2 separate regions of the Homo sapiens genome follow, and region 2 is linked to region 1. Evidence: fine-mapped expression QTL. A gene starts in region 1. The other region holds a variant in brackets. All regions are shown on one strand. Distances are from middle to middle.

Region 1 (10,731 bases):
CTTCACCCTGTAATTTTAATCTGTATTTCTACTAGCATAAAAATTTTTGCCTTCACTTTACTCTGTATACTGTGTATCATTCCAGTCTGTTACCTCATTTAAAAATAAAAGGCTTAAAAAAGTTACTATAAATTACCATCAAACAATCTGATTTGCCTTTATTAGGTTTCTAAATAATGCCAATATACTCTATTATCCAAACGTGCTGTCGTCTAAATATTTTCTAACTCCAGTAATTTTTTACCAAATAAAAATTCCTTTTAAATGGGAACCAATTTGAATGATGAGGCTTTCTAACAGATTAAAAGATAATCAGTGTAATGTACGCTAGAGGTAAGGATGACCAAGTCTTACCTTTATCAGTTGTTACTTTTTCTATGCATCTGAAAGAAATAAGAATCAAACATTAATGAACAATCTAGCACATTTTCTGAAAATATAAATATCTCTTTCAGGTTCACCTCCAGAGTGATAAAGAAAGCATCTAGACTAGTGTTGTCCTACAGAATTTTCAGCAGTGATGGAAACATATCTGCACTGTCCAATATGGCAGTCACATGTGGCTACTGAGCACTTGAAACAGTTCATGTAATTGTGAAACTGAATTTTTAATTTTGATTAATGTAAATTTAAATAGCCACATGTGGCTACATAACTGACAGCACAGAGCTAGAATATCATTCAAAACACCTATTTTTAACTAAGATATTGATACAAAGAAAATATTACTAATTTTGTTACATTAAGTGATTATATAAGAAAATGTTCTTATTTTATATAAATGTACTAACTAGAGATGAAATGATGTTTGGGATGTGCTCCAAAATACTTCTGCCAAAACAGGGAGGATGGACATAGCAAGCATGGCAAAATCTCAGCTAGGTGATCAATACTGGGGTTTCATTATACTATTTTCCCTATTTTGTGTATATTTAACAATTTTCATAATAAAAACTCAATGAAGTGTTAAAAAGACCCTAAAATTGTTTGTTAAGACCAAATCAAAATCTACTTGTAAAAAGACAATAGGTGGACCTCACAAGTAAATGTAACTTGCCCTTTACAAATTAAAAAGCAACAGTAAAGAGCTTAAAAATTGTTATAGCCTGAAGATTTTTTTAAAAACCCCCAAAACAACAAAAATCAGACATATCCCCAGGTTTTTCATTCAGAAAAATTTCTCTCATACGTAACTGGTGAGGACAGTATAATGAACTTCCTATACTTACTACTAAAATTCAAAAGTCAACAGGCCCTGAACATTTATCATATAGATACCACAGAGTATCTCTGAACAGTACAAAGTTTTTTTGTTGTTGCTCCTCCCAAAAGTAAACCTAATATAGTAAAGACTCTATTATGTTACAATATGTTATAAATAAATACCCAGACAAATACAGAAGCCACAGTGTAATACAAAAATCTATTCTACTTAGAAACAATAGTTATCACTGTTTGTTCCATACTTTTTTAAAAAAGACTGGTATTATAATTTTATTTTAAATCACATTACCAATGTCCCAATTAACACACCATAACTGCTAATCATCCCATCTTTAAATAAAAACTGCAGAAATAATTGCTAAATTTTTGAAAAATTATATAACAAACTTTTCCAAAAACCTTGAAAGTTGGTTCAATGTTTCTATCATCATACTGATTAAGATCCTGATCACAGGATTTCAGTCTTGTACAACTGAAGGCTTCTCCAAAGAACTGTAAGTTTTTTCAATTCAGAATATTACCACCTCTTCATCCTCACTATCCATGACCTTCAAAAGGGAAACAGCAAGAAAGGTCACCTAAAGGTTTATTACTGTTTTAATTTTAGCAAGAAAATATACCAAAAATGGAATTTCACATACTAGAAAATAAAACTACTTTCCTTAATCTGAACCTGAAGGAAGACATCTAAAAATACTCAGTATTAGCTAATATGGTTACTCAACAGCGAAGTTAGAATTTTTAAAAAGTATTTGTCCCTAAAGTTTTAAGTTTTGAAATGCACAGGATAAATGAAGGGCTATTACATGTAAGAATGAAAAAAAGCCTTATACATTTTAACCTAGTCTTAATTTGACAATTTCATTCCCTACTAGCAGAACGCATGGATGAATCAGAAAAAAATCATAGGCAAAAACTAGTATACTAATGCTACTAGATTTTACTTCAAAAATTAAAGACAGTATATAAACGTGCACTTGAAATAACTGTAATTTACTGGCTAACATACAGCAAATGATCAGTCTTACTCTTAGTATGGATACATAAACTTTCTTCAAATTTGGTTTATTTTTCCTACTAGCTTTCTATGCTTCAATTTATCATGATTCTAGCATTTAACTCTGTGCTTCTCTTGAGCACAATGAAAAATTTTTATTTCCCCTTCATCCACAAATATTTCCTCTTCCCAATAACCCCTAAATAGTTCATTGTGAAAAGAAGTTGTTATAAACATCAGATTATAAAAACTGTAAGCTAAATATGTCATCTCGCAAATTCATAAAATATCAATTATAAATGAAGCAATTATAAATGAAGAGGTTAAGTGACTTGCTCAAGGCCACTTACTGCACAGTACAAAGCTGGAACATAAAACTTTCTGACTAAAGTCCAATGCTTTATCCACTCTATTATTTTGCCTTCCAATGGGAACAGAGGTTTCAACCAATCCAAATCTATCTATTTCTTGACCTTTTAAACTATGGTATACTTTACTATCACTTTAATTAAGAAAATCAAATGTAGGTTAAACAGCTGATTACTAAGATTGTATACAGGGAAATGCTGGGATATGGAAAAAGGACTAGCGCGAACAAGTAAGTAATACAGAATAAACCTTCCTTTTTAAAATTTTCAAAATGTCATTTGGAAAACAGAAATGACTCAAAGTCAAAGATACCAGACCAGGGTTTGGACTCAAAACCTCTTGAAATATCTTAAAGGATTAAATTATGTAGAAAAAATTAAGTCTTAAAATGTATTTTATGACTGAAAATCTGTATACCATACACACATTTGACATATCTCCACTAATTAATGCATCTTTGCCTTACACCCCAAGGTCCTTGAAGATGAGGGCCATGTCTCATTTTTCTTTCTACCACCTAGTTCAGCATAGTACCAGGCCCAGATACTGATGAAACAAGTTTGCCAAGCTAAAATGCTTTAGCATTCCTCTGATTTCCAGATTATGGAATAAGGTAAAAATGTGTAACAAAAACTCTATTATGACGAAAATTTGTTTAACAACCTGATCAAAAACACAGTCAAGAGATAATTTTGGGGCTGAAAGAAGAATGCCATTGTCACTACTGTTTTCTAATGATATTGGATGGGAGGCGGGTGGCGCTAAGAATTCAGCCTTATTTCTTCCTCCCCACAAGGAACATTGTGCAGAAAAAAGGAAGGAATTTAATTAAGTCATCTTCATCCATATACAACAGTAACAGTTATATGGAATTAAAGCGTCACTAGTACTTTGTTGCCAAGAGTTAGGGCAAAAATAAATCATGACAGCAGGTAAAATTACTGTTTTAGATAAAAATTATTTATTTTCCTTCAAAAATTAAACAGCAGGCTGGGCGCAGTGGCTCACGCCTGTAATCCCAGCACTTTGGGAGGCTGAGGCGGGTGGATCACCTGAGGTCAAGAGTTGGAGACCAACCCGGCCAATATGGTGAAACCTCACCTCTACTAAAATTACAAAAATTAGCTGGGATTGGTGGCGGGCGCCTGTAATGCCAGCTGCTTGGGATGACGAGGCAGGAGAATTGCTTGAAGCCAGGAGGCGGAGGTTGCAGTGTGCAGAGATCATCGTGGCACTGCTCCAGCCTGGGCAACAGAGCAAAAACTCCATCTCCAAAAAAAGAAATTAAACAGCAGGTACCATTTTAGACATAATTATCTTATCTTGAGATATAGGTATATTTAATTTTCAAGGGGTAGGTGAGAATAAAAGGAAATTTTAAAAATATTTTAAGTATTACCCTCTCTACGAATAGTAATATTAAAGAGTGAAAAAATCATATTTTGCATAATTTATATGAAAAACCTCACTACAAACCACTCAAGGATCTACCATCCCACCATTACTGAAAAACGCAACTTGTACTTAGTATTTACAACAGGCATTGTGTCTAGCACTTTACACACTGTATTTAATTCTCACAAACTCACGTTGCAGAGATTATCCTCTATAGGTAAGGAAACTAAGGCATGGGTAGGTTAAGGAATTTGCTCACGGAATTCATATCCAAATGAGGTCAATGATATACATGTATCTTTTCAAATTCATGAGATTAAACAATATAGAACTATAAAATTTTTGTAAGATGAAATGCATCTACAGCAATTAGAAGTCTAATTGCAGCTGAATCTGTAAGTACAGATTTTTGCTGTCGACAGAACTGCAGTTCTTACAACAAATTCTCTAAATTATGTTAACTTAGCTGACATTCAAAAATTTGAAAGCATATCTAATACCACAATATGATTACCTCTGAATTTTATTTCTCTTTCTGAGAGGCTTCTAAGGCAAGCATGCCAAGACACAGGCTTAACTCTTAATTTTGGACCAAGTCTGTTTCAAGTTTTAAATCTATTAGGTCTGGTGTAAGTCAAACCTTGCCACTATCTCTACTGGAAGAAAGGGAACACTTAAAACTGACTCCCCCTCACTTCAATTTTCTCTGTTTTTACTAATCTGTTTTCACTCAAAAATCAAAGGTCACTAATGATGTTTTCAGTCATGAATTGAATAGTCAATGTGATTAATTTCTAGAATTTACAAACTTGTGTGCTTCAGTATTCTTAACATGAGTATTATTTTAACGAACAATTTAAGACAATGCTCCTGGCCACCTGTTCATGTTTCCTCTATTACGTCTAGGTAATAAAGGAATTCCTCTCAGATGATTCTAATTTCAAGGATGAAGTTCCTACATTTAAAAACACGAAACACAAAGATAAAACATATGCTACTTAGTAAAAACAAACATTAAAGAATGCTCATATAATTTTATATGAAAGACTCCATACTTAAAATCGTAGCAGTGGGCTTTTAACCTGACCATAATAAGTGGCAAATTTCTCAAAAGAATGAGAAGGGTTGCGAAAAATTTAGAAAAGTGAAAAAAAAAAAAAGCTACATAAACACACTAGTACATCTGGCTCTTGAGCTAACGCGAAGGCGGGGGGGAATCATTTTTGAAGGCTATGATCGGGCTGTGTATTCCCTAAAGGGCATGTGATGTAATACTGGAGAGCCGCCTAAAGGAAAGGGATAGGGTGACAAAGGGGGTGCGGATGCCAGAAAGAGGGATGAGCCTGCGGGTGTCAGGGAGGAGGTGGATCACTAGCGAGTGCAGGGGTGTATCAAAAGATGATTTCGGGGAGTGGGGAAACGGCCCGACAAGCGAAGGTACAGGAGCGAGATGAGGGTGGCGCAGAGAGGAGGCACGAAGGCTCCCGGGGAAACGGTGTGACATCTGGCGTGCGGAGCCGGCAGGGGGCAGACCAGGCAGGATGTCACGTGGAGTAGGCGCTACGGGAGCCGAGAGGGTTGCGTACGGACAGAGGGGGGTCTTTCCCACCGCCTGAAAGACTGTTACTCACAGGAGTCGCGGACTCTTCTTGCCCTGAACTGGAGACGGGGACTTCGCGGCCTGGGGCTGCTGCCCGGGGACGTCGGGAGGCCTGGCGCTGGGGCTGCTCCTCCGCCGGCGGGGATACTCGGCCTTCCTCCGGCGGGACACAGCTGCGGCGGCGGCGGCCGCAGCGGCCCGGCCTCGGTCCCGACCTCCCCTCAGCACGCGGCTGCTAGTGGTCCCTGCAGGCGCCGCCGCGACCGCCTCAGGGGGCCGTTGTTGGGGCTCCTCCGGAGCCGCCTTGGCCGCCTCTCCCCCTTCCTGGTCCTGCTGCTCCGGGGGTCTCGGCTCTTCCGTCTCCCCCGGCATCGGGGCTTGTCCGTCCCCCACCCCCTAGTCCTAGGCGGCGGAGGCGGAGGCGGCGGCCTCGGCGCTGCTCCCCCCGCCCCCTCGCCTCCCGAAGCCTGCGGCTCACTCTCACCCTGCGCTCCTCTTTCCCCCCTCCCCTCCGCCCGGCTCCGAGGGCGCCCCCCCCACCCCCTGCCACTCAAGGTCCGCTACCGCTGGCGGCGCGCGCGCGCGCGCCACAGACGCTCAGCGGGCCAATCGGAAAAGAGGACAAGCCTCCTCACCCCGCCCCTCGCAGTCTTACACGCAGCGGCGCCCCAGGTTCCCTCCCCCACCCCTTCCTTCAGCCAATCAGGAAACGGCTAAAAGGGGAGCGCGCGAGGTTTCCTTCCCCGCGCACCCGTTCTCACCGTTAAACGGCTGTGTCTCGCGACAATCCCAAAGTGACCTTTTTCCCCCCTCCAGACTTCAACGCGCGCTAGGGGCAGTGCGAGGGGCAGGTCTCGCGAGGGAGGCGGGTGAGAAGAAATCGCACCTCTTTCCCCGCCTCACGCAAACCCTAGACTGGCTGCGCGCGCACCTGCCTCCCTGAGGAGCCACTGATACCACAAGGGCTCTTTCTATTCTTCTTTAGGCCGCAGAAGTAGCCTGGGCGTTCTTCCGCCTCCACCCTACCCCACTTTCCTGTCTTTGGCCTTTCTGTCCCCAGCGCCGCCAGATCTTGCGCGGAGAAGGGGGTAGTATTTTGAGCTGTCGCTTCTCCTTTAAGAAAAAAAGCCCCGTCGGTTGCCGGATGAAAGTCTCTGAAAAAATGGCGGCGGCAAAACGGAGGCGGGGTTGTGGGGGCAACGAGGGCCCGCCTCTTGGCGCATGCGCACCGTTAACTTAACCAAGGGCATTCTGGGAGATGAAGTCTTATTTCGCCTAGGCTTTAGGAAAAATAGATGGGAAACCAGAGGTGGAGAGGATGCCGGGAGGTTCTAACTGAGTCACGACGGGAAAGGTAGTTTACTTTCCGCAGTCTAGAGTTTACCTTTTTTTCGGGAGGCAGTGTTTCCGGGTTAGGTCGCGACGCGTGCCGTACATCCGGGCTCAAGCGTCGAGCCAATTGCTGGTCTGATGGGAGGGTTTTTCCTACTTTTTCTTACTTTTTATCTGGGCGTTGGCGTACCTTTCTCGGGGTGTCTGCGTAACTGCCCAGACTTGCCTTGGTTTGGTCAGATGACACCTCCTCTGGGACTGGCTAGCCAGCGTTCATGTCTACATTATTGATCTCGTCTTCCGGTGTGTGAGTCACTCACCTGTGAGCTCCTAGAGGTCAGCGACTAAATCTGGTTCCATGGGGTCCTTGGGCCCTCGGAGCCCTAGCACAAGGCCCACTACTCAGTTGGCTCTTAATCAAATCTGTGAAACGAATTATAAAGTTGCTTTTCTACTAGACCTTGTTGGGACACCAAGGAGCCGGCGTCGGTTGCTTAACTTGGATGCGGTGCCTGACCTAGAGGGAGGCGAAAGGGTTGTGAGCGTGACATGACTGGTGACCTACACCGAGAAGCTGAAGGGTCTCTTAAGCTCTGCGGCCGGAAGCCATCTGCTTCTGCGGTTTATACAATAGCAACTTTATCAGAGGTTACTTTTCTGCACGCTAGCGTATGACATTAATTTGTCTTCCTGATTCATCAAAGGGAATTTCCGTTGCAGTTGGTGATGCAGTGGGCCTCTCCCATTTCTTTTTTCTTTTCATCCATTACAATCAAGGAACGATTTGCAAGAACATCCTTTACCCCTGGAAAATAAGGCATCCAGGGCTAAAAGTCCCAAAAGAAAGAAGCTGGAAACAAGATCTGGGGATCCAATTTTAAATTTCACATTAATCATTCAGTTAAACTGTAGACAAGTGCTGAAGTACATTTTTCCTTCCAGTACTTTGACTCAGATACCACTTCATATTAGACAAATGTTTTATATTCTCTACTGAGTATTTTCCATTTTCATAGGGCTAATGTCATTTTCAGTTGTAATAATCGATTGGCATAGTGTCAATGGAAATTTTTTAAGATTGAGTTTGTAGTGAGCAGACTTTTGGAAGGAACAGTGCTGACATCCAATGGATGCTCAAAGTAATACAGAGGAGGAATCTCCTTTCAAAAAAAAATGTACAGACAGTGGAATGGAGAATGAATTATTCCCTAAAAAAAAAAAGCCACTGTGGGCTGGATGTGGTAGCTCACCCCCGGAATCCCAGCGCTTTTGGATGCCAAAGTGGGAGGATCCCTTGAGCCCAGAACTTCCAGACCAGCCTGGGCAACATAGGGAGACCACCCTCTACATAAAAAATAAAAATAAAGCTTTTAAGCTAACCTGGTGGCGTGATGGGATGCACCTCTGGTCCCAGCTACTCCAGAAGCTGAGAAGGGCAAATCGCTTGAGTTCAGGAGTTCGAGTTGGAGGTTACACTGAACTATGATAGTACCTTTGCACGCCAGCCTGGGTGACAGAGAGCTTGTCTTAAAAAAAGTAAAGAAGGCTACGGTGTTGTAGAGGAAAGATCCCAGACTTTGCAATTATAGTAAGTAGCAAAGCTACCAATTAATTATCTTAGCAAGTTGCTATTACATGAACCTATTTCACCATTGGTAAAAAGGGGGAAAAAATCTATTTCACAGGGCCATAATTATAGTTCCTTACGTATTGCTTTTTTATAGTAGGCCTTTTGTAAATGTTTAATTCAAGGTGAATAAATCACAGTGGTAAAAAAGGTGAAGAGTTAACCTCAGTGTTACTTTCCAAAGAAATTGCTATAAGGCAGTGTATCTAGGCAGGGATTATGCTTAATTGAGATGCACACAGTTTAACATCTGGTGTCAAACCTGGCTTCCTTCTTTGTGACCACCCTATAGATGTTTGCTTTTGGGACCACTGAGTAAACCAGGCCCTGAGAATCCAAGCATGAATCCACTTCTGCCCTACTTTTAAGGATTTACGTTCCATGCAGGAAAGCAGATAACCATAATTTCTGAATAAATAAGACAACAAAATGAAATGGATGCTGGTCAACTCTGATGCAAATTTTAAGAAGGAGACTATGCCTCTGTGTCTCCCAGCTTCACAGAAAAAAAAAAAAGAAAAAAGAAAGATGCTCAGAGTGGGGTACCTACACTTGGAAAAAACGCAAGTATAAGTCTGCCATTCCCATGAATCCAAGATGAATCCTGGCACAGAGTAGGTCCTCAAATTTTGCAAAATTAATTTTGAATCTTTATCACCCTGGCCAATGCACTGCCATAATGCAAATCTTACTATCTACCTTTCTATGTCAGTCACATTTTTAAAACTGTGTAACCTATGAAAAAAAAAAAAAAGCTCACCAAATCAAAAGAGAGGAAGTGCTAAGCAAATACAGGAACCAAAAAGGTTTATAGAGGCTGCCTTATGCTGTCTCATCCAGTTCCTTTGCGGTCCTCTTCTTCAGCACATGCCAAAGCTGTTCCTCACGGCCTGTGAGACAAGAGCATCTTGGATGTAGGACAATGGAAGAGTTAGGTGAGTGAGGAGCCTGAGGAGAAACTCTGAGGGAGTGAAGACTTGGCTGCCATCTCCTTGTGTGGTGGGGTATACTTCTGGCTAGACTGAGGGTAGTAATGGAAGATTTTATTTTCACTTCTTTCCTGTCCTCAGCCCTGCCAAGAGTGAAGCATGAGGAACTATGATTGTTTTGGGGAACTATGGGTTCACTGTTTGCAGTGGCAAAATAGATGGAGAGTTTGGTGCTAACCGCGGAATAAACTCTTGGCAAATACTTTTGGACTGGATTGTTACTGCAGTTGTTGTCTTGTTATGGGCGTTTTGCCCTTTGGAGGTCACTGGAGATCAAGGGTGGCCACATAGCGAGACAATGCAGAGATATGATTTGAGGAGGAAAAGAAAGAGCAAAAAGGGAATTGGGGTGTTATGAGGAAGAAAAGACGGACTAGAAGTATAAGAATGAGGGATCTGTAGAGGTTGGAAAAAGGCCAGAGTGGTTTCATTTGTTCCATGTTTTAGTATTAAATCAAGAAGGCATAGCACTCTAACTCTAGTGATTTTGTTGCTAAGCTTTTTATTCAGAAGAATTCTGAAGGAAGAGATTACTAGGGCCTGAAAATATGACACCTCCTTCCACTCTAAGACAATTAAAACCAGCAGTGGAACTATTAACCATATTAACCAGAGAAATCCTGGATTTCAAACCTTTGGAGTAATGTAAGGTTTGTCATTCTTGGGACTCATTCCATAGCCTTTGCCAACATCTGTTGCCAGCATCTTAACTAACACTGAGTCACTAAACTATACCCAATTTCCAAACTGTATTAATTCCACAGTGTCCTGGTTTGGGGTGTGTTTGGGGATAGGGTATGTCAAAAGTGCAAAAAACAACAACAAAAAATATCTTGCACATTGTTACATTGTCTTAAAAAAAATGGCGTGTGATTTCAAAGCTGGAGAAACAGAGGAAAAGTAAAGGGCAAATTACCAGGAGGCAAGAGATGTTAATGAAGAGAAAAAGGTAGTGTTTAATAAATATCAAACTGCTTTGGAGGTAAAGTCTATTTTGATATTGGGCCAGACTCTTTTTTGGACTTGGGGTAGAATTCTATTTCTTATCCTACGTGAGTGCTGGGAGAATGTGAATTTCTGCTTGAGTTCTAGTAGTGCTAGGGCCTTTTTTCTTTTTCTCTTTCTTTTTTTTGGGGGGGATGGAGGGGACACCGAAAGGCTTTCATGGCAAATAATTCAAAAGGAAACTAATACTTAT
Region 2 (10,731 bases), 200 kb after region 1:
TTTTACCCTCCTAGTTATCTTGATTTCCTGCTTGTTTGTATTTGTATTTGTCACCATTTTAAAGATGCTCTCTTTAAGTATACAAGAAGGTTTTATCTACCTATGGTTCTCACCTCACTGCAGTTCCTTTATTTTATGAGACTGTCCTCATCACATATGTGCAGCCAAGTTCTATCATTTCATGAACACAGAAAAAATTGTATCTGTGTTTCATATTATGGTTATCCCCATGCTAATCCCTGTGGTTTATAGCCTGAGAAACAACGAGGTCAAGAGTGCATTCAAGACTGTTTGTTGAGGAAACAAAATATTTTCTGGGTTTAGTCTTTTAATAATGTAAAATCCATAAAAAGTCATTCTATCCCTCTTAGATCCACCTTATGCAATAGCTTTCTGTATTATATTATATTATTATATTATTAATTTCTTTAGTTGAGAAATAGCTCTAAGCATGCGAAATAGAGAGAAATATGATACTGGTTTTAATAGAGTATAGTTTTTTATTGGCACATTTTATCTAAATATAAATAATTACAGTATCTTAATATTAATGTTTCAGTCATTATGTAGTGATTTGGTGAGAGAAAGCATATTCACATGACAACCTTGAAAAGATAGTCAAATTAGAATAAAAGCAGAGAAAATATTGTCATCTTTTACCTTACCCATATGACTACCAACTTCACATTTTGTTTTTTAAAAAAGCATTGATATTAATAATAATGCTATTCTCTTTTTTGGCAGTAAATGTTTTGAAATTGTTGTGCCACCATCGTTGCTTTGGTTGGGCCCACATCTCTAGGCATGCTCTTGTCTTAGGAGCTCTTTATTTGCTGTTTCCTCTGCTCAGAAAATTTCCATACTCATTTAATATTGTTGCTTAAATGTTAACCCACCCAGGCAGATCATGCCTTTCCTGAACTACTTCATAATATAGCCTCTCCCCTCCCATGGACCTTCTTTCCTCAGCCTACTTCATTCTTCAAAATCATTATCAACATTAAACTCCGGTATTATTTGTTCACCTGTTTATCATATCTTCGACTTGAATGGAAATTCCCTATGAGTGGTCACCTAATCTAGTTATTTTACTGTAACAAAGCTATGAGGCTTGAATTTAAAATTCTTGTATGGCACACATATACCTCTGTAACAAACCTGTGTGTTCTGCACATGTATCCCAAAACTTAAAGTAAAATTTTAAAAAAAAAATTTTAAACAAATTTACAAGAAAAAAACAAACAACCCCATCAAAAAGTGGGTGAAGGATATGAACAGACACTTCTCAAAAGAAGACATTTATGCAGCCAAAAAACACATGAAAAAATGCTCACCATCACTGGCCATCAGAGAAATGCAAATCAAAACCACAATGAGATACCATCTCACACCAGTTAGAATGGCAATCATTAAAAAGTCAGGAAACAACAGGTGCTGGAGAGGATGTGGAGAAGTAGGAACACTTTTACACTGTTGGTGGGACTGTAAACTTGCTCAACCATTGTGGAAGTCAGTGTGGCGATTCCTCAGGGATCTAGAACTTGAAATACCATTTGACCCAGCCATCCCATTACTGGGTATATACCCAAAGGACTATAAATCATGCTGCTATAAAGACACATGTACACGTATGTTTATTGCGGCACTATTCACAATAGCAAAGACTTGGAACCAACCCACATGTCCAACAATGATAGACTGGATTAAGAAAATGTGGCACATATACACCATGGAATACTATGCAGCCATAAAAAATGATGAGATCATGTCCTTTGTAGGGACATGGATGAAATTGGAAATCATCATTCTCAGTAAACTATCGCAAGGACAAAAAACCAAACACTACATGCTCTCACTCATAGGTGGGAATTGAACAATGAGAACACATGGACACAGGAAGGGGAACATCACACTCTGGGGCCTGTTGTGGGGTTGGGGGAAGGGGGAGGGAGAGCATTAGGAGATATACGTAATGCTAAATGACGAGTTAATGGGTGCAGCACACCAACATGGCACATGTATACATATGTAACAAACCTGCACATTGTGCACACGTACCCTAAAACTTAAAGTATAATAATAATAAAATAAAATAAAAAATTAAAATTAATAAAAAATTAAAAAAAAGAAATTCTCCAAACCATTTGCTTTTCACCTTGTAGCCAACTAAGGACTGACAAATGTACCTGAAGACCAATTATTGTTTCTACCCCTTCCAAAAGTCTTATCTTAATAAGATGGTTGCCAATGATTCACTGGTTCAGTATTTATTCCATTTTACTCAATGAGCTTACTGTCCCTTCTAACACACTTGCAATCCTGCTGAAGTAAAAATAATAGAAGATGGTTTCCTTGCTGCAAGTTTATTAATAAATTGCCTTTATTTTGTGCTAGACAGGATTTTGTGTTCAACACACTTCAGAAATGGTAATGAAGAATAATGGATAAGAAGAGAAATGCTGAAGAGATTACACCAGCAGCCAAGGAAAACAATGGAAAATGGAGTTTTCCCCAGAGAAAAAAATCAGGGTCTCATAAAAAAATATATATCATTACTTGGGTGAGGGACTTTCATAATGCCAATTCTGTAAGATTTTAAAACCAACCAGTGTGCCTCCCATTACTGTCTTGTATACATGGGGATGACTTTTTTCTGTGTGTGTGTGTGTGTGTGTGTGTGTGTGTGTGTCTGTGTATGTGTTTGCTAATTATCTTTACTCTGGTATGACTTTATGTATTGGATGTGAATGTAGAAGGAGCTAAATTTTCTTTTTGGTTCATAAATTGCTGAACCACAAGGAGCCACATCCTGATTATGTGGAGAAGACCATTTAACCTGAGGTTGAGCTTGTATGGTGACTAGTTGGGATTTAGGTGGTCTCTTTGGGGGAGGTAGATAATATGTTCTTTCTGTGGGAAGAAGTATAAAGTGGATATTGGATGATCATAAGTATTACAATGGAAAAGACTGGTAGTTGTTTTCCAAACTATTTTATTTTTACTGTACTCATACCTAGGCTGTTTCTCAGCCTTTATGCAGTACTTTGTGGCTATGTGATTGTATTTTTGACAATCCAATTTGTGAAGTCATATATGCCATTTCAACTCTGGCCCATGATACTCTTCATGTAGTCCTCTGTATGCTCTCTTTGTCACCATCTGGAGAGACAAAATTCAGACTACGGGGGATAATGGAATCACTTAGTGAAAAGACCTGGGTCATTGAATCTCTGTGTGAATTCCTATAGAACAATTAATTGAATAACCTGTGGGCAAGAAAATCTTCTATGATCATGCCACTGTAATTTCCGAGTTTACTTGTATGGCAGCTAGCGTTATTTATCCTAACTAATACAGACAGACTTTCATAATACAATCTGGATACTGTTTGTAGGTAATGGGGCTGGACAGCATATAACGGAAAAAGTGTCAAATTTCTCCATCACAATTTAATTCCACAATTGTTTATTTTTAAATCCTTATCCATTCTCCAAGTCATGACTAAAATGACAAGCACAAATAAAAGTACACAGATTTGAAACACAGAATAAAGCTGCATATGAATTCCATTTCAACAAAGCTTTGTGACAAGTGTCAAGTTAATTAAATGTTCTGAGATTCTACTTGTGAAAATACCACCTACTCATAGAATTATTTTGAATGGGTACTGAATGAGTGAGAACACAGCACAGTGCCTGAAACAGAATAGCTGTTCAAAATATGTTAGTAATTACTTCTCTCTATTCCTTTTCTTATTCTTATGTCATTTCATCACCTAATTTGTCACCCTTCTCCATAGAACTATTGAAACACTTATTAATTATATAGATTCATTTTTATAAATGTAGCTGCACTACTCAGTCATTATTCTCAGATATTAGTCTGATCTGATGTTGATTACATGGAAGGACTCAAGAGTGTCTAATAAAATGGCAACTCAGTGAAGGAACAAATTTACATATTAAATGTTAAAAAGGCCTATCCAATTTTATCTCTATTATCTGTTCCTTCATAATATTGATCACAATACAAAGTTATCTATTTGTGTGTGTTTACTTAAATTTGTTTTTCAACAAGAATAAAAGCTTGATGCATACAGGAACAATTTCTGACTTGGTCACTAACAAAGATTCATGCCTGGAACAGAGTTGGGGCTCAGTAAAAGATTTTAGTGAATGAGTAAATGAATAATAAGGAGAACTAATAGGAAAAACTCATCATCTGTTTGTAGAAAACAAGAAGATAGGTAATAAAAGATGCTAGATTTTACTGCAGTAACACATTAAGTGAAAACCCAATGGTTTAACACAACAAAGATTTTGTATTAGTTCCCTTTGGTTGTGACAAATTACCACATGCTTAGGGAAGTAAAACAACACATTTTATTTTCTTACAGTTTTGGAGGTCAGATGTCCAAAATCAGTTTCACTAGAATGAAACCAAGGTATCAGTCTCCAGAATCTCTAGGAAATAATCAGTTCCATGCATATTTCATCTTCAGGTGGCTGCCAGCATTCCTTGACTTTTGTCTGCATCAGTCTGATCTCTCCCTTCGCAGTCAGGTTCTTTTCTCCATTTTATGCCTATGCAATTTTTCCCTGACTCCACCTTTTTAATTTATATGAAATGTCCATAAAATAAAATTGATTATTTAAAAGTATATAATTCATTGATATTTAGTACATTCATAAAGTTGTGAAACCATCACATATATCTAATTTCAAAAGTTTTTTT[TA/A]CTCACAAAGAAGATTCCATACTCATTAAGCAGTAGTCCCTCATTCCCTCAGCCCCCTGACCCTGGGGACCAATAATCTTATTTCAATCTCTATGGATTTACCAATTCTGTATAGATCACATAAATGTAATCTCATAATATGTGACCTTTTATGTATGATTTATTTTACTTTACAGAATGTTTTCAAGGCTCATTCATATTGTAACATGTATTAATATTTTATTTTTACAGCTGAGTAATATTTAATCATACATATGTACTACATTTTGTTCTTCCATTCTCAGTTGATGAACATTGGGGTGTTTTCACCTTTGAGCAATTGTTAATATTTTACTAATGATGCTATGGATATTTGTGGGAAAGCATTATTTGAAGAACTGTTTTTGTTCTTTAAGTAGATAACAGGAAGTAGGATGGCTCATGCATATGGTAATTTGAGTTTAACTTTTGAAGACTAACAAATTGTTTTTCATATCAGCTCTACAATTTTACATTTCCACCAGCAATTTATAAGGGCTCCAATTTCTCTACATCCATGCCAATATTTGTTAGTTTCCATTTCTTTTTCAATAGCCATCCTAATGGATTATAAAATAGTATCTCCTGGTAGTTTTTATTTAAATTTCTCCTGATAAATAATGATATTGAGGATTTTTTATGTATTTATATAATTTGCAAATGTTTTTCTAATTCTGTAGATTTCCTTTTCACTTTTTGATAATGTACTTTGATGCCCAAAAGTTTGTAATTTTCAAATACAATTTATCTATTTTTGAAAACATAACAGCAATATCTCACCTTAATGAAGACCCTATTTAAAACACTTCACACACAGTGAATCATTTGATTCTCTTGACAATCATACAAGATACAGTTTTTAAATCTCCATTTTATGGATGAGGTATTTGAGACACAAAAAATCTAAGACACTTGCCTAAGGTTGCACAGCATATGTGACAGAGCCCCACTTGTAAATATTTACTCTATTGCCCCTGGAAAGAACATACTACTTTATTCCCTTGATATATTTTTAATAGTATGATTTTAATCTTTAATTTTTATTATTTTTGAGCCTTAATGTGTCCCTTTCTTTTTATTAGTATTTTAGTTGAAACATAACAATCGTACATTTTTATGGATACAGTGTATTCTGATGCATTTATGCAATGTGCAGTGATCATATCAAAGTAATTAGCAAATCCAACATCTGAAACATTTATCATTTCTTTGTGTTGGGAACATTCAAATATCATTTCTTCTAGCTCTTTGAATATGTACAATAAATCCTTATTAACTATAGCCACCCCACAGTGCTATAGAACACTAGAACTTTTTTCTCCTACCTAGCTGTAATTTTGTGTGTTAACCAACCTTTCCTTATCCTCCTTCCTCCCTAGCCTTCCCAGCCTCTAAGAGTCACTAATTAATTATCTAATTCTATGAGATAAACAATTTTAGATTCCACATATGAATGAGAACATGCAGTACTTACCTTTCTGTACCTGGCATATTTCACTTAACATCCTTCAGACTCCTCCATTTGTTGAGGCAAATGACAGAATTTTGTTCTTTTATGGCTGCATAGTATTCCATCGTGTATATGCATCACATTTTTAAATTCAGTCTTCTGTTGATAGACATTTGAGTTGATATTAAATCTTGACCATTAAGAATAACATTGTAATAAACATGGGGTTACAGATATTTTTAGACATACCAATCTCCTTTCCTTTGGGTATATACCCAATGGTGAAACTGCTGGATCATATGGCAGTGGTATTTTTAGTTTTTTTTTTTAAGAACCTCCATACTGTTTTCACAATGGCTATACTAATTTACATTCCCATCATCAGTGTGTAAGAGTTTCCCTTTCTTCATATCCTCATAATTTTTGTGTTTTATCTTTCTGATAATAGCTATTATAACTGGGGCAAGATGGTATCTCATTGTGGTTTTGATTTGCATTTTTCTGATGATTCATGATGCTGAACATTTTAAAATATATGTGTTGACCATTTGTATGTCTCTTTTTAATAAATATCTATTCAGATTTTTTGCCCATTTTTTATATTGGGTTATTTGTTTTTTGGCTCTTGAGTTTGTTGTATATTCTAGATATTACCCTCTCATTGAATGAATAGTTTGCAAATATTTTCACCCATTCTTCATGGTGTCTTTCTACTCTATTCATTGTTTCCTCTGCTGTATAGAAATATTTAGTTTGCTATAATCCCATTTGTCTATTTTTGCTTTTGTTGCCTGTGCTTTTGAGGTTTTCACTATACGATCTTTGCCAAGGTCAATATCCTGAGGCATTTCTTCCAAGTTTTCTCCTAGTAGTTTCAGAGTTTTGAGTCTCACATTTAAGTAATTAATCAATTTTGAGATGATTTTTATATGTGATGAAAGATAGATGTCCAATTTTTTTTACATATGGATATCTAATTTTCCCAGGACCATTTATTAAAGAGACTATCCTTTCCCCCAGTGAGTGTTCTTGGTGTCTTTATTGACCATTAGTTGGCTATAAAATCCTGAATGTATTTACATGTTGTTTATTCTGTTACATTAGTATATGTGTCTACTTTTATGCCAGTACCATGCCATTTTGGTTACTATAGCTTTGTAGTATATTTTGATGCCACATCCTGTGATGCCTCTAGCTTTGTGCTTTTTGTTTAGAACTTCTTTCACTATTTAGGGTCTTTTGTGGTTTCATATGGTTTTTTGGATTGTTTTTTTCTATTCTGTGAAAAAAACATTAAAATTTTAATAGGCATTTCATTAAATCTGTATAGTGCCTTGGACAGTATGGCCATTTTAACAAGACTAATTCTTACAATCACTGAACATGGGATATCTTTCCATTTATTTGTGTCCTTTTCAATTTTTTTCATCAATGTTTTATGGTTTTTCTTGTAGAAATTTTTCACCTCCATGGTTAAATTTATTTGTAGGTTTTTTGGTAGTTATTATAAATAAAATTACTTTGTTTACCTCTTTTTCAGCTAGTCTGTTGTGAATGTGTAGAAAACACTGATTGTTATATGTTGATTTTCTTATCTAGCAACTTCATCAAATTCATTTATCATTTCCAGGTTTTTTATGGTGGAGTCTTTAGGTATAGGATTATGTGGCTGCAAACAGGGACATCCTTCTTTCCAATTTAGATGCCCTTTATTTCTTTCTCTTGCCTAACAGCTCTGGCTAGAACTTCCAGTAATATGTTTAATAGGAGTGGTTAAATGGGTATCCTTCACTTCTTTCAGTTCTTAGAGGAAAAGCTTTTAGCCTTTCTCCATCCAGTATGATGTCAGCTGTGGGTTTGTTATATATGGCTTTTATTGTGTTGGGATACATTTCTTCATGCTTAATTTGAAGATAGTTTTATCATGAAGGGAAGTTAAATTTTATCAATGCTTTTTCTACATCTGTTCCAATTATCACATGGTTTTTGCTCTTTATTCTGTTGATGTGATATAGCATGTTTATTGATTTGCGTATATTGAACTATCCTTGCACCCCTGGAATAAATTCCACTTGATCATGGTGTATAATCTTTTTGATTTGCCGTTGGATTTTGTTTTCTAGCATTTTGTGGAGAATTTTTGCATCTGTGTTCATCAGGGATATTGGTCTGTAGTTTTCTTTTTTGTTGTGTCGTTGCCTGGTTTTGATAAGAGGGTAATACAGCCTCATTGAATGAGTTTGGAAGATTTTCCTCTACTTTAATTTTTTGAAATAGTTTGAGAAGAATTAGTATTAGTTCTTCTTCATTTTTTAATTTCAACTTTCATTTTAGATACAGGGGGTACACATGCAAATTTCTTACATGGGTATATTTCATGATGCTGAGGTCTGGAGTGTGGATCCCTGTCACCCAGGTAGTGAACATAGTACCCAATAAGTAGTTTTTTAACCTGTCCCCCATCCTCTAGTAGTCCACAATGTCTATTGTTTTTATATTTATGTCCATATGTTATCAATGCTTAGCTCCCCCTTATAAGTGAGAACATGTGGTATTTGGTTTTCTGTTCCTGCATTAATTTGTTTCAGATTATGTCCTCCAGCTCCATCCATGTCGTTGCAAAGGACATGATTTTATTCTTTTTGATGGCTGTGTAGCATTCCACAGTGTATATTTACCACATTTTCTTTATTCAGTCTACTATTGATTGTCATCTGGGTTGATTCCATGTCTTTGCTATTGTAAATAGCATAGCAATGAGCATATTTGCAGTGAAGACATCTAGTCCTGGGCTTTCCTTTGGAGACTTTCTTTTCTCTAGAAAACTTTAATTACAGATTTAATCTTTTTACTCACTATTGGTCCGTCCAGTTTTCCTATTTCTTGGTGGTTCAATCTTGGCAGATTGTGTGTGTCCAGGAATTGATCCACTTATTCTACATTTTCCAATTTCTTGGCCTATAGTTGTTCATAATACCTCTAGTAGTTCTCTGTATTTCTGGGGTATATGTTGTAATGTCTCCTTTTAGTTTCTAATTTTATTTACTTGGGTCTTCTCTCTCTTTTTTTTCTTGGTTAGTCTAGCTAAAGGTTTGTCAATTTTGCTCAAATTTTTAAAGCCAACATTTTGTTTTGTTGATCTTTTTAATTATTTTTTGGTCTCAATTGTATTTCTGCTCAGATATTTGTGATCTCTTTTCTTCTGCTAATCCGGCATTTAATTTGTTCTTACTCTTCTATTCCCTTAAGGTATATTGTTAGATTGTTTATATGAAAAAATTCTACTTTTTAAATGTAGGTGTTTATTGTTATTGTTATAAATTTTCCTGTTAATATTGATTCTTCTGTATCCCATAATTTTGCTATGTTTTTAAAGAAATATTAAATTTTTCTTCTTATTTATTGACCCATGGTCATTCAGGAGCACATTGTTTAATTTACATGCATTTGTACATTTTCTGAAAGTTCCTAGTATTATTGATTTCTAGTTTTATTCTATTGTGGAGAGAAAAGATATTTGCTATAATTTTAATTTTAAAATATTTGTTTAAGCTTGTTGTGTGGCCTAACATATGACCAATCCTGGAGAATGTTCCATGAGCTGATAAATGTTTATTCTTCAGCCACTGGATGAAGTGTTTGTCTGATAAGTCTACTTGGTCTATAGTGCAGTTTAAATCTTATATTTATTTGTTGATTTTCTTCCTATATGATCTGTCCTATGCCTAGAGTGGGTGTTGAAATCCCCAAATATTATTGTATTGGAGTCTATCTCTCCCTTTAAACCTAATAATATTTGCTTTATACATCTGGTGCTCTGGTGTTGAGTGCATATACATTTATAATTTAAATCATTTTGTTGAATTTATCTTTTTATGCTTATATAATGATCTTATTTGTCTCTTTTTATATTTTTTGACTTAACATCTGTTTCATTAAATATAATTATAGCTACTCCTACTTACTTTTGGCTTTCATTTGCATAAAAAAACTTTTCCCGTTCCTTCACTCTCAATCTTTTTGTGTCTTTAGTGAAGAAGTGGGGTTTTTTTAGACAGTATATAGTTGGTATTTTTTAAATTCATTAATCCAGTCTATGTATTTAATTGGGATATTCAATTTATTTATGTTTAAAGTTAGTATTGACAGGTGAGAATTTATGTCTGTCATTTTGTTGTTTTCTGGTTGTTTTATATATCCTTTATTCCTTTCTTCTTCTCTTATGGTTTATGTTCATGATTTGGTGGCATTCTATAGTGATAAGTTTTTATTTCTTTCTCTTTCTCCTTTATGTATCGGCTCTACCAGTGAGTTTTATAGTGGTGTATGTGTTTTTGTGATGGTAGTTATCATCCTTTGGCTTCCAAGTGTAGGACTTTCTTAATTTCTAAGACCAGTGTAGTGGCAATGAATTCTCTCAAATTTTGTTTGCCTGAGACTTTATTTCTCCTTCATTTCTGAAGGATAACTTTGCTAGGTACAATATTTTTGGTTGACAGTTTTTTTTGTTGTTGCTTCAGCACTTTGA

What was found. PIP is the estimated chance that this variant, and not a neighbour inherited with it, causes the effect.
Region 2: its variant is fine-mapped to the expression of ZFP91 in aorta (GTEx, PIP 0.96).

The regions. Positions count from the first base shown.
Region 1 is chr11:58,574,508-58,585,238 of GRCh38, reverse strand. ZFP91 (ZFP91 zinc finger protein, atypical E3 ubiquitin ligase) reads right to left here and starts at 6,176. Exons shown (of 11, transcript NM_053023.5): 1 at 5,617-6,176; 2 at 355-383. The coding sequence starts at 5,957. LPXN (leupaxin) reads left to right here and starts at 9,383. Exons shown (of 9, transcript NM_004811.3): 1 at 9,383-9,479. The coding sequence starts at 9,467. It overlaps ZFP91-CNTF (ZFP91-CNTF readthrough (NMD candidate)), which reads right to left and starts at 6,125. Exons shown (of 13, transcript NR_024091.1): 1 at 5,617-6,125; 2 at 355-383. RefSeq lists enhancers at 5,107-5,798, 6,543-6,772, 6,492-7,184, 6,803-7,322, 7,343-7,422 and 3 more and a silencer at 5,703-6,122.
Region 2 is chr11:58,377,147-58,387,877 of GRCh38, reverse strand. It overlaps the pseudogene OR5B15P. Among named protein-coding and RNA genes, the nearest start is that of OR5B17, 23 kb to the right of the region's middle. The variant TA/A (reference allele first, on the strand shown) is at 4,735.